Homo sapiens: one gene and its partner. The protein of the gene in region 1 interacts with the protein of each later gene in a pairwise test. Each region holds a gene or a part of one and is shown on either strand. Other genes may lie near its edges.

Region 1 (5,702 bases):
AAAATGAAGACCGTTTAAGGGTTACACATCCTCAGCCTTGGCGAGTGCGACCTCAATTAGTCAAGCCAGAAAGTCTTTAAAAGCTTTGTGCTTAGTGCTTCCAGCATGGAGCGAGGTGTTCATTAAGGTACCAAAATTCTCATAAAAAATCCAAAGTTGCACTAGTGAAAAAACGCTCAACAAGATGAAAACTGATCACATCTTTTTCAGAAAATCCAGTAGTTATTTTAAAACCAGTTTTTAAACAAGATTTGGTTTTGCGTAGTTTAACGTGCCACTCAAGCAGCTCGATACCATTTGGACTCTTTAAACAGCATTTAAATCTATGGTGAGTATATAATGGTACATTTAATTTTATACCATTTTTAAAATAAGTTGTACAATGTTTAGTGTGACCCTTTTATGACAAGCATTGTTAAATGAATTCTTTCCCTGTTTACAACTATTTATGAAGGCCTTTTTAAATAAAAAAAAACCCATGAAATTGTTAGCTCACACACACAAAATTTCTTTCAAAAGTTTATTTAGTATCAAGCAAGAGGAGACTTTGCTTAACACTACAGAACATTTCAAGACTTGAGTTACAAAAGAATACCACATTATTTGCACTTGTAATTGGCTTCCCTTTTTACGCATGTTGGCAAGAGAAAAAAAAACTAGCATATGGCTGAAAGATAAAATAACTAAATTCTATGGAAACCTTTAAAATGAAAGGTGAGGCTTATGTTAAAAGAATAGATTAACATATTTAGTAAACCTATTTTTTGTTTAACACTAGTTAATCAAAGTTATTTTTTTTCCTTTTGATGACCTATTTTTTCATATACAGACTGGAAATAACAAAATTTTACATGTCTTTTTTTTTTTTTTTCTGCCCAGGTTGATGTTTCAACAAAGTAGTTTTAAGTTCCATCCATTCAGATTTTAAGCATTCTGATTTATTTAAAAAGGGATTGTTCATAGAAAAAAATTACTTTGAACAGTATACAGGACTGGTGGAGATTGGCTATTTCACAACATCAGACAGTACAATCAGTATCTGCCATATGGCTGGTCTCTGTAGACGCCCTTTGCTGTCCTCGCTGAAGGTGCCTTGTGTCTTGAGTTAGTCCACTCTTCTTGCCCTACAATCAGTAAGATGAATCACAATTAGATCACTGCCATGAATCCCACAGGCTTCATTTTTCAGACTCTAACTTAGCCCTGAACCAAAGGTACATGTCATATTGAAAATATATACCCCTGGTGTACTGAAAAGAAAAACAAACAAGGAATTTACTTAAATAAATTACAAACACAAGGAAAAATAATCATCTCACTCGCAAAATTCGTCAGCGTGGGAAGATAAACGGTTCTTGTATCTGAAATGGTAACCAACTTCGCAAGGACTTTCCTTTTGGTTACTCATTTAACAACAGTTTACAAGCTCAAGTAGCAAAGAGAACTGCCTTTTGCTAAACATCAGGACATTTATGAGTGAAAAAGAGAATGGGAAAAGGATCACTTAGATGTCTTCCAACAGCAAAAACAAAGAAAAAACATAGGTAAACATCTGTGAAGACAAAGAAGAAAACCGGAGAGCAAAACGGGAAGGGGCAGACTGAGAAAGGGAAATATGACCTCATTTTTCACAGGCGCTTTCACGGAAAGACTGAAGGAAAGTTGCATTGGGTTGAACTTCACTTCTCAATAGCACTTCATGAATATGAAATGAATTTAACGACATAATGTCAGATTTCATTCATCATAATGCTAAATCCGTACTGAACAAAGGTATTAATAACCAGGGACATTCTATCATCTTTATCTCCTGAAATTAAACACCTGTTCAGCCTGAAGATAACTTTTAATGAGTTATCTATAAGTCTTGGACATCAAACAGTTAACATCCCTGCTGCAACATACAGCAATTTAAAAGCCATGTGTCCACAGAGACCAATTTAAAAAGCTGTGAAGGAAAAATGCTTAAAATGACCTCTTCTTTTGATACAAAACATGCAATCAACGTCACTCCCTCAAGCTAACTTGCATCAATTTAGGTAGCCTGCATTCAGCAAACCAACATATTTCTCTTAAGTGTTTGTTACGGATAACAAAAAAAAAAAAAAAAAAAAAAAAAAAAAATCCAAGGTGCAGCCATCACAGCTTCAGGCAGGTGATACAACAAAATGCACTTCAAAAGGTTTAACGCCGGAAAATGGTTTTTCCGTTCTGTTAAGAGAAATGTCCTAACATCCATTAACCACAATCCTGATATACTTGCACCGGGTACCAGGGATTCATCAGAGCTTTGCAACTGATTGAAGCTTCATGTTCTCTGATCTCCTTGCCCTGCGGCAAGGGCTCTTCTTACTACCATTATGTTGCTGCCGCCAATTCTTTTAATTATTAAACCTGTCATCGTTCTGCATAGTGAGACTTTGGACATGAAGTCCCCAGCATCTCTACCAGCTCCACTGAATTAAGAGGGGTTTAGCTGCTGCCCTTTGTAAAGCTTACAGACCCTGTATCTCCTCCTTGGCTCAGTGCTTTTGTAACCTTTATGAAATGACTCCCAGTGTAATTTTTTTCAGAGGGTTTGAGATTGGAAATGAATTAAAACATAAAGATGAAGGTGGGAGAATCACTTTAGAGCTGTAGTCTCAATTGCTTCATTTCCCTTCACTGTCAGGAAACAAAGACACTTCAAAAAGACCCAGCTATCAAGTGTCTGAAGTTTGAAAAACTACTCTGTGAGAAAATCAGCACACGGCGACCAACTCAAACATAAAATTTAAGTTCAGAATCTGGATTCATGCAATCTTCAGCAAGTCTTTAGTCCTCTTCAAATATTTATATAATAAAGGAGCCCTAAAAATAGCTAGACATGCACAAATGAATTGACAGGAAGCTGCTGTTTCAGAGTCCAAATGTCCTTATTCTCTTCCCATTAATATCTTTAAGGTCTTTCTACGGCCATCTCTCCTCCCTCTCTTCACATGCTCTGGCCAGTCACTCACCGTAGGAATCATAAGTCTCCTCACTGAGTCCATGTCCGTAATCATAGTAATCAGCACCACTGCAAGTGATCAAAACAAAACAAAGGACAAAATCATCTGGCTGTGAGTTTCAACAGTATTCAATAACGTATTGTAAAACTTAAAGACAACTAATGAAGGGCAAGACTGAAAATTCAAAGAAATTCCCACCGAGATCACAGAGTTCTAAAGCAGAAGTGTCAACTTTGGGATTATCAAAGGACCCTTGTCTAGCTCCCTAATTTTAATACATAATAAATATGTTTCGACATTTTAACCACAACAATTGGCCACGCAACACACAGTAAGTGCCTAAAAGTGCACGAGGGAATACAAAGACAGCACCTGACCTGGGAAGACTGGGAGTCTGCGGAGAGGGAGGATGTGTGTGGACAATTCTAGCCCAGTGTGCCAAGAGCTAGGGCTGGGCCTGTGCAAGGCACTGTGGGAGTGGGGGAGGAGGTAAACACCTCCTTTCCAATAGATGGGATGTTTACAGAAGGCAAAGACTTTATTTCTTCTTACACCCTCGTCTACCAGAGAACCCGGTGCTGCATGAATTGTGGGTGCTGTACTTTATAGTACATTAAAAACAAATGCCCAGATGAAATGTTTTCTTTGACCGGCACTGTTGCATCACCATCCGGAAGCTGCTGGGAAAAGAGGACTCAGCAGCCATGGCCACATGGGACAGGAGAGCAGGGAAATGGATCTCTGCAGTCCAGTCACAAGTCTGGTTACATGAGGCCAAGGATCTTTTCAAAGTACAGGCAAATCCACGTTCCAATGTACAACATCCTTGAGAGAGCACGAGGAAAGAGCCATCACTGACAGCAAGAGGGAAGAGTTCTCACTGCCATTTTGCAGATGATGCAAAACAGCCTACATATATACAATGTATTTGAACTAGGAATAATTTTTTACAGGAATAGACTTGTGAAAAGTCTAGATTACTCAGCCATAACCATTCTGAGTATTTGAGAAAGAGTTTCCATGTACCCTCTCAGGCTTTCCTCTTTCCCACTCCATTTTGTAGGGAAACCACCATCCTGAATTTGTTATCTTAGACTGTCATGGAAATAAACATCCCCATTCTTCCAATTTCATACAATCAAGAGGTTTCTAATCAAAATGGAAAATGATCCAGCTCAGATGTTTAACACCTCAGGAAGTCACAGTTTGAGGAGCACAGATGCTTGCTGTGAATGTCTACTGAACACCAGCCGCTGAGATCCCACATCACCCCCGGCCTCGGATAGTAAAACTGCCATACCCATTTGACAGATAAGGATACTGCAGACCAGAAGAGCTAAGAAGCCAGGCTAAATTGCATGGAGAACAGTATAACTGAATCTCTGTGACTACACAGGCCAGACTTGTGGTCACAACCACACGGAGTTTTTCCCCCACGTTTTCTTTCTCAGGAAAATGACACCAGAGACTAATCATCACATTTAATGACTACGGCACAGCATGGCCATTCCTATGAGAAAAGTGTAAGCAATGGAGCTATGTTCCTTTTTATCTCAAACATGTGGGCATGAGTTTTTATATTTGCTACTCTTTCTGCCAGAAGGCCCTTCTCTCCTGTCCTCCAGGCTATTTCCAACTCAAGCCCTTAACCTAAATGCCACTTCCAAAGAGAACCTTGCTGGTATCCCTGAGTGAGGTTGGTTTCCCACGACAGCATGCCCTGGTTCTCATTCTTTTGGCCTGGAGGAGACCCTCACGTTACATATGTTAAGTGGGTATACGGAGAAGGGGCACCTCCATCACTCTAGTGTAGTGTGTCATGAATGGCTTGGAGCATGCAGTGCTTGCACAGTGTTCTGAGGGTGAAGGTGAAGACAGGTGGAGAAGGAATGGACAGAGGCAATGGCAGCAAGGGTCTTCCAGGCAGAAGAAACAGAATATGCAAAGCAGAGGCAGGAAACAGGTTGGAAAATCTAGGTGTCAACAAGCAGTTCAATCAAATATAGTAAGTATTGATGAAAAATGCCTGGACCAGGCCAGGCGCGGTGGCTCATGCCTGTAATCTCAGCACTTTGGGAGGCTGAGGCGGGCGGATCACGAGGTCAGAAGATCGAGACCATCCTGGCCAACATGGTGAAACCCTGTCTCTACTAAAAAAAAGTATATAAAAATTAGCTGGGTGTGGTGACGTCTGTAGTCCCAGCTACTTGGGATGCTGAGGCAGGGGAACTGCTTGAACCCAGGAGGCGGACGTTGCAGTGAGCTGAGATTGTGCCACTGCACTCCAGCCTGGCGACAGAGCGAGACTCCATCACAGAAAAAAAAAAAAAAGACAAATGCCTGGACCGGAATATTCCTTAGAATACTTCTTCCACACATAGAATATAGGCCCCACCTTGTTATCCTGGCTTAATCATATCCTTACAAGCTAATTAAATACGGTGTAACACGGAGGTTATGATTTGAGCTCTCTGTATAAAATAAGCTCTCTGAAATGGGCTGTGTTAAGCTCCGCTGGCTTAACACATTACAGAATAGTCACTACTACAGCTGACCTAATATACCAAGTAGCAATGTGCAATTTTTCCACAGAGGTACATGTAGCCACAGAGTTTTAAAAAATGGTCTTCAAATTAAGGGCTGGCATTCCTAAAAAAATTTAGAAGAAAAACGAGTGTGAGAGGAATGCAACTATTGTGAGCTACACCACTG
Region 2 (5,625 bases), on another chromosome or scaffold:
AGAATGAAGGAATGCACGTCTATATTCTGAATGCAAGGCTACTGAATTTCATTAATAGAAGCAGTAGTTTTCATGGACTGCATACTTCCTATGTCAGGTACTGGGCTAAGCACTTTCCTTGCTTCCCACACTCAACTATACATTGTTGGGAGTTTTCCATTTTTACTTTGTTTTCAATGGGATTCTCCACTAAAATATCTGCTTATCTAGGACTCACGGGTAGGTAACTTGGACAATACATGGAAAGCACATTCTCTTACACATAGTAGGCACTCAGTAAGTATCTGTTGAATAAGTGAATGGATGGAGAGAATTAACTCCATTTTGAACAAATTATCTTTCTGAATGCAACCCTAAAACTTTGCCATTCATATTTCTCAGGAATGTCTCATTTAACTGATAATTTGATTCCTGGCCCATGCGTTAGTAAAAGTCATTTTTACATCAAGTTTCTATTTTTAGAGATCCTCTTTCCACAAGTAGAAATGACATAAACCACGCTCGTCTCCTTAGTTTATTTTTTTCTAGAGTCCTTAACATGCTACATTAACCTGACAAAGCTTAATCTTGTGTTCGTTTCACAATACATTTCATGCAGTTCACAGCTGTGATTGGTTTTACATTGACATTACACATGTTTCGATTCAGCCATGTGAAAAGAGTAATTCTTAATGGGGTTTGTCTCTGAAAACTGTCCAAGCTTAAATAAGCATATGAGCAGTTCACTCTATTCTTAAGTGCATCTCTCTTTAAAATGCAAGGATTTTTAGTGTAAGAATATAATGTCCCTGTTTATAGTCCATTTGCAACAGAACCACTTCCTTTAGGTTTCACATATCCTGAGGAATCCACTTTTACAAAATTGCATTCAAGTATATTATTTCATTTAACATTCCAGGTTGGGTTTAGGTGCAAGGCTGACCTTCAGCTTTACATCCCCAAATAAATCTTCCACGGACCCAGCCTTCCCAAGACTATTCTTAACATTAGACTCTCTTTTACAATAAACATTCAGCACTAAAGCCACAGAACAGAGCTATTTGGCATTTTCCAGTGAAGTGCAAGAAGTTAAATAAGTTATGTTTTTATTGCTAATGTATAGAATCAAGCACAGTCACTTTGTCAAACAGAAGGAAAGGGCATACACAAGATGTGGCCTCTCCTCAGATGCCTCAGGGTCAAAACGCACAGAAAATGTCACCTGGCCACCACCCATCCAGCACCACTTTAAGATGATGTGTTGAGTGTTCTAGAGTCTGAGGAGTCAGACCTCTCGTCATAGTCGTCCTCGGTGTAAATGGACTGCTTTGACACAAATGGACACCCATCATCAGGGATGGAAATCCGAGGGTCTTCCGTGGCGCGGGCAGGAAGGACGGGCGAGCTTCTGAAGACGCTGGTAGAGTTACTGGGGAAAGGACTGACATACTGGGACCTCAGCTGATACTGCTGCTGCAGCGTCATGGTGTTCCACAGGGTGACATCATTGGGCAAAAAGGGGCTCGACTGGCTTCTCGCCAAAGTATTCCTCAGCATCAGCGGGTACCGGGGTGGCTGGGGGAAAGGGGGCTGCAGAGGCCCAGCCAAGGGACTGGGGACAACGTTGCTAGAGTCGGCAGAAAACCTCAACGTGTCTGGGACTCGAAAGGCTGATCCCACAGACCATTTGGAAGACGAGATGGGGTAGGAGCTCAAGGTGTGTTCAAAGATGTGCCCATTGGAGGGCAACGCTAGACTCTCAGGTTCTGCGGAAGTTCGCTCTGCTCCCGTGACTGAGGATCGGCTGGACAGAAGGACTTCCACGGCGCTCACCAGGTCCCCGCCACAGCCCTTGAGGATGAGCTCAAGCACCGTTGGCTTCTGGTTGGGGAATATCTTTTTTAACACTTCAAGCGGCGGTCTGTTGGCTTTCAAGCTGAAGGGCAGAGAAACAGTCCCCGAGGGGCCCTCAATCAGGAGGTGATTCTGCTCCGCGTGACACTTGGGGCTGTCAGGGCGGCTCTCGGGGTTGCCTCCGTTTTTCTGGACAGCGTATCCCCCTTCCTCCACGGACACTATCTCAGGGCTCTCAGGGGTGAAGCAGCCCTTACTCTTTGCCACATCTGGGGAACTCCTCTGGTCAGTGTCTTTGTCACTGAAGACCTCTGTATTGTCTGCCGACTTGCCGTCTCCAAGTCGTTCTTCAGTCAAATCTGGAAAACAGAACAGCTGAGTTAATCTTTTCCTGGTGTGCATAAAGAGGAGCAGATGTGCTCAGAAGAGACCTGTACACGTGCTTTTTGGAAGAGCAAATGCATCTCAATGGGTCATAATATACTACAAGCCTTTTTAAAAAAATTCGAACTATATCACTGGCAAATGAAACAAAAACCCTGTAAATAAAGATCTAGAAATCAGAGTGGCTTCCTGGAATGCTTTGTGCAAGGAAGCTTGCCTTCAACATAGAATGGCTACATGAACCTGTAACATATGGCTTTCATAGCAGTAACAATCTCAATAGAGAGCCTCTTTGGGAGGAGGGGTGGGGGACTCCTGGAAGAGCAAAGCTCAGGGAGAAACAGGAAAATCAGCTCAGCTTGTCTTCCGGCTCCTCTTCTGCAAATAAGGTCCCCAGCTGTTATCTAGGGATAGTACCATCCAGATACCCACAGGGAATTTTAATATCTGAAATCTATTTTCCCATAGGCTGATTTTGTGTTAAATATGTCTTATGAACCAATCAGTAAGTTGCATCAGGTTACCATATACAATAGCTAGCTAATTCAATTGCTGAAGTGAAAGATACCTCTATCCATTGAAATCTTTCATAAGAAGCCACTTGAGGCATTGGCAAACTTGGTTGCCAATAACTTGTACTAGAAAGCAAACGAAACCAGCTATGAATTCCGGATGGCAGGATAAGTTGCTGGAGAGGAAAAAAGGAAGTGGCTAGAAAGGGTTTGTTAAATTGCACGGGGGCATTATTATCCATCAATGAAACAACGCATCACACTCCACCGCCACGGGTGGCACGAGGCAGATACCTGTGCATGAACTGTTTTGCTGGTACAGTTCATGGAAAGGACTTGAAGATACCTTTTTTTAAAGCCAGTGAAATTTGAAGATACCTTTTTATATTATATGAAAAGAAGAAGGAGGGAAAAAAAGGCTTCCCAAATAAAGCAGAGACTTGCGATAAAGTAAACCAGTTGCAAATTTAACATCTTGACCTAAGAACATTTTTACTTAACAGCTGGTAATATTGCAGGGCTAAGCACACAGAAAAGAGTAAGTCAGAGTGGTTTGCTTTGCAGTAGTAAATTCCAACAGGACTTTATAATAAAGAAACATATTTTTTAGTAGCAAGCTATTTGCAAATAGAGTTTTGTCCTTTTTTGAAACACGCGCTGGCTGTGGCTACTCAAAGCCAGGGTAGCTGATCGAAAGATGAAAATTCCTAATGACCCAGTTGTTGAGTTGTAAACAATTGCTTTGCCTGTGTTTTCTGCTGCCCTGCCTGAATAGCTTCATTGTTGCCTTCTCTGTGGGCACACCTGATTATATACAGATAGCCAGCCGGTGAAATTTCATCAAAGCACCCTCTAGAAACAATCTTCTCCTACACTTGTCATTTTAAAAGCCTTAAGGGCCTACTTATGAACATTCTTCTAATACAGGTGTATCTTAAGTGTAACCAAAAAACAAAACTTTGTGAAATTTCATCAAAGCACCTTCTAGAAACCATCTTCTCCTACACTTGTTATTTATTTTAAAAGCCTTAAAGGCCTACTTAGAAACATTCTTCTAATACAGGATGTATCTCAGATGTAACCAAAAACCAAAACTTTGGCCTTTAACAAAGCAATAAATATGTGGCAAACATAAGTAAATACACTTTAAAACACTCTTCAATTACCTCAGTGCAAGTGTCAACATACATCTGATAGGAATTCATACTTATCCCAAATTTGCATTTTAATTAAACTGCTTCTTTTTTAATATAAAATATAAGGTTTCCAATGAGAGGTTCATTTGCGTCACATACATATGAAGCCATCTTCACTTTATATAATGACTCTATAGAAAGACTCTACTGTAGAATGACTCTATTTTTGTAAGAGAAATTTGACATATTCTCTCCTACAACTTCTTAGGATGGGGGACACAGCTTTTACCTCTTGAGTTAATGTGGTATTTGAACTCATGTCCTTGATTCAAAAGAGAAAAACAGCAACAAAAAGGCTTCTATAGATTTACTTTATAATCAGCTAGATCTATTTAAATGTTCCTGACTCATGACCCATACATACTTCTTGGCTGTTACTCTATTATTAAACATTTGAAAATTATTAAACACTTGAAAAGTGATAGCATATTAATATACTATCACTTTTAGAAATTGGAAAAACAAGTCAAATACTCTCCCCATGTAAATATGGACATAAAGTACTTCTTTAAAATACTATGTACTTCTAAACAGTTTCCTTATTTTTTAATTTTAGCGTAATTATCAGCACCAAGTATTTATATTTCTGCACGATACTGGGAGAAACAGAATAAAGGATGAAAAACACCAAGAAGTGTAAGACCCACACCTAGCTTATGGACCTTATCTTCTAGCTGGGGAAATAAGACACACATGCAGGAGAAGAAGCAAACAGGGCCTGGCAGCATTTGCTAAGCCTCAAATATGACACACATTGTATACCAATGTTCATGGCAGCAGCATTCACAATAGCCAAAAGGTGAAAGCAACCCAAATGTCCATCAGTGCATGAATGTATAAAACGTGGTGTACACACACACACACACACACACACACACACACACACACACACACAGTGGGATATTATTCAGCCTTAAAAAGGAATGGAATTCCAATACATGCTATAACATGGATGAACCTTGAGAACATTAGGCTAAGTGAAATAAGCCAGACACAAAAGGACAAATACTGTATGACTCTACTTATATTCGATACCAAGAATAGGGAAATTCAGAGAGAAAGTAGTGTGGTGGTTGTCAGGGGCTGGAGGAAAAGGGAATGGGGAGTTATTGTTTCATGGGTATGGAGTTTCCGTCTGGAATGATGAAAAGGTTCTGAAGATGGATGGTGGTGATGGTTGCACAACATTTTGAATAAATGCCACTGAATTGTGCCCCTAAAAATGGTTAAAATTGTAAACTTTATGTTATATATACTTTACCACAATAAAAAAAGAAAAATATATGCCACACAGTGTCATAGTAATATAGAGAATGAAGAGATTTTTTTAAGCAAGAGAAACAACTAGTCCTTCTTGGGAATAAAGCGTACATAGGCACAGCTGGAAAGCTCAAAGCTCAACTTTTTTTTTTTTTTTGAGACAGAGTCTCACTCTGTCACCCAGGCTGGAGTGCAGTGGCATGGTCTCGGCTCACTGGAAACTCTGCCTCCTGGGTTCAAGTGATTCTCCCGCGTCAGCCTCCCGAATAGCTGGGACTACAGGTGTGTGCCACCACACCCAGCTAATTTTTGTATTTGTAGTAGAGACAGGGTTTCACTATGTTGGCCAGGCTCCTCTCGAACTCCTGACCTCATGATCCACCCGCCTCAGCCTCCCAAAGTGCTGGGATTACAGGAGTCAGCCACCACGCCCGGCCAGC

The links. The genes of interacting proteins can lie anywhere in the genome.
Region 2: the proteins of KHDRBS3 (region 1) and DMRT3 interact in binary tests that used the Homo sapiens proteins (3 or more experiments, as listed by UniProt).

Annotation. Positions count from the first base shown.
Region 1 is NC_000008.11:135,642,415-135,648,116, reverse strand, and holds the end of KHDRBS3 (KH domain-containing, RNA-binding, signal transduction-associated protein 3), read right to left. Parts: intron 3,059-5,702; coding exon 3,000-3,058; intron 1,125-2,999; coding exon 1,033-1,124; coding exon of another isoform or gene 1,020-1,032; 3' UTR 507-1,019; downstream 1-506. UniProt on the Homo sapiens protein: RNA-binding protein that plays a role in the regulation of alternative splicing and influences mRNA splice site selection and exon inclusion. Binds preferentially to the 5'-[AU]UAAA-3' motif in vitro.
Region 2 is NC_000009.12:986,608-992,232, reverse strand, and holds the end of DMRT3 (doublesex- and mab-3-related transcription factor 3), read right to left. Parts: intron 2,193-5,625; coding exon 1,228-2,192; 3' UTR 501-1,227; downstream 1-500. UniProt on the Homo sapiens protein: Probable transcription factor that plays a role in configuring the spinal circuits controlling stride in vertebrates.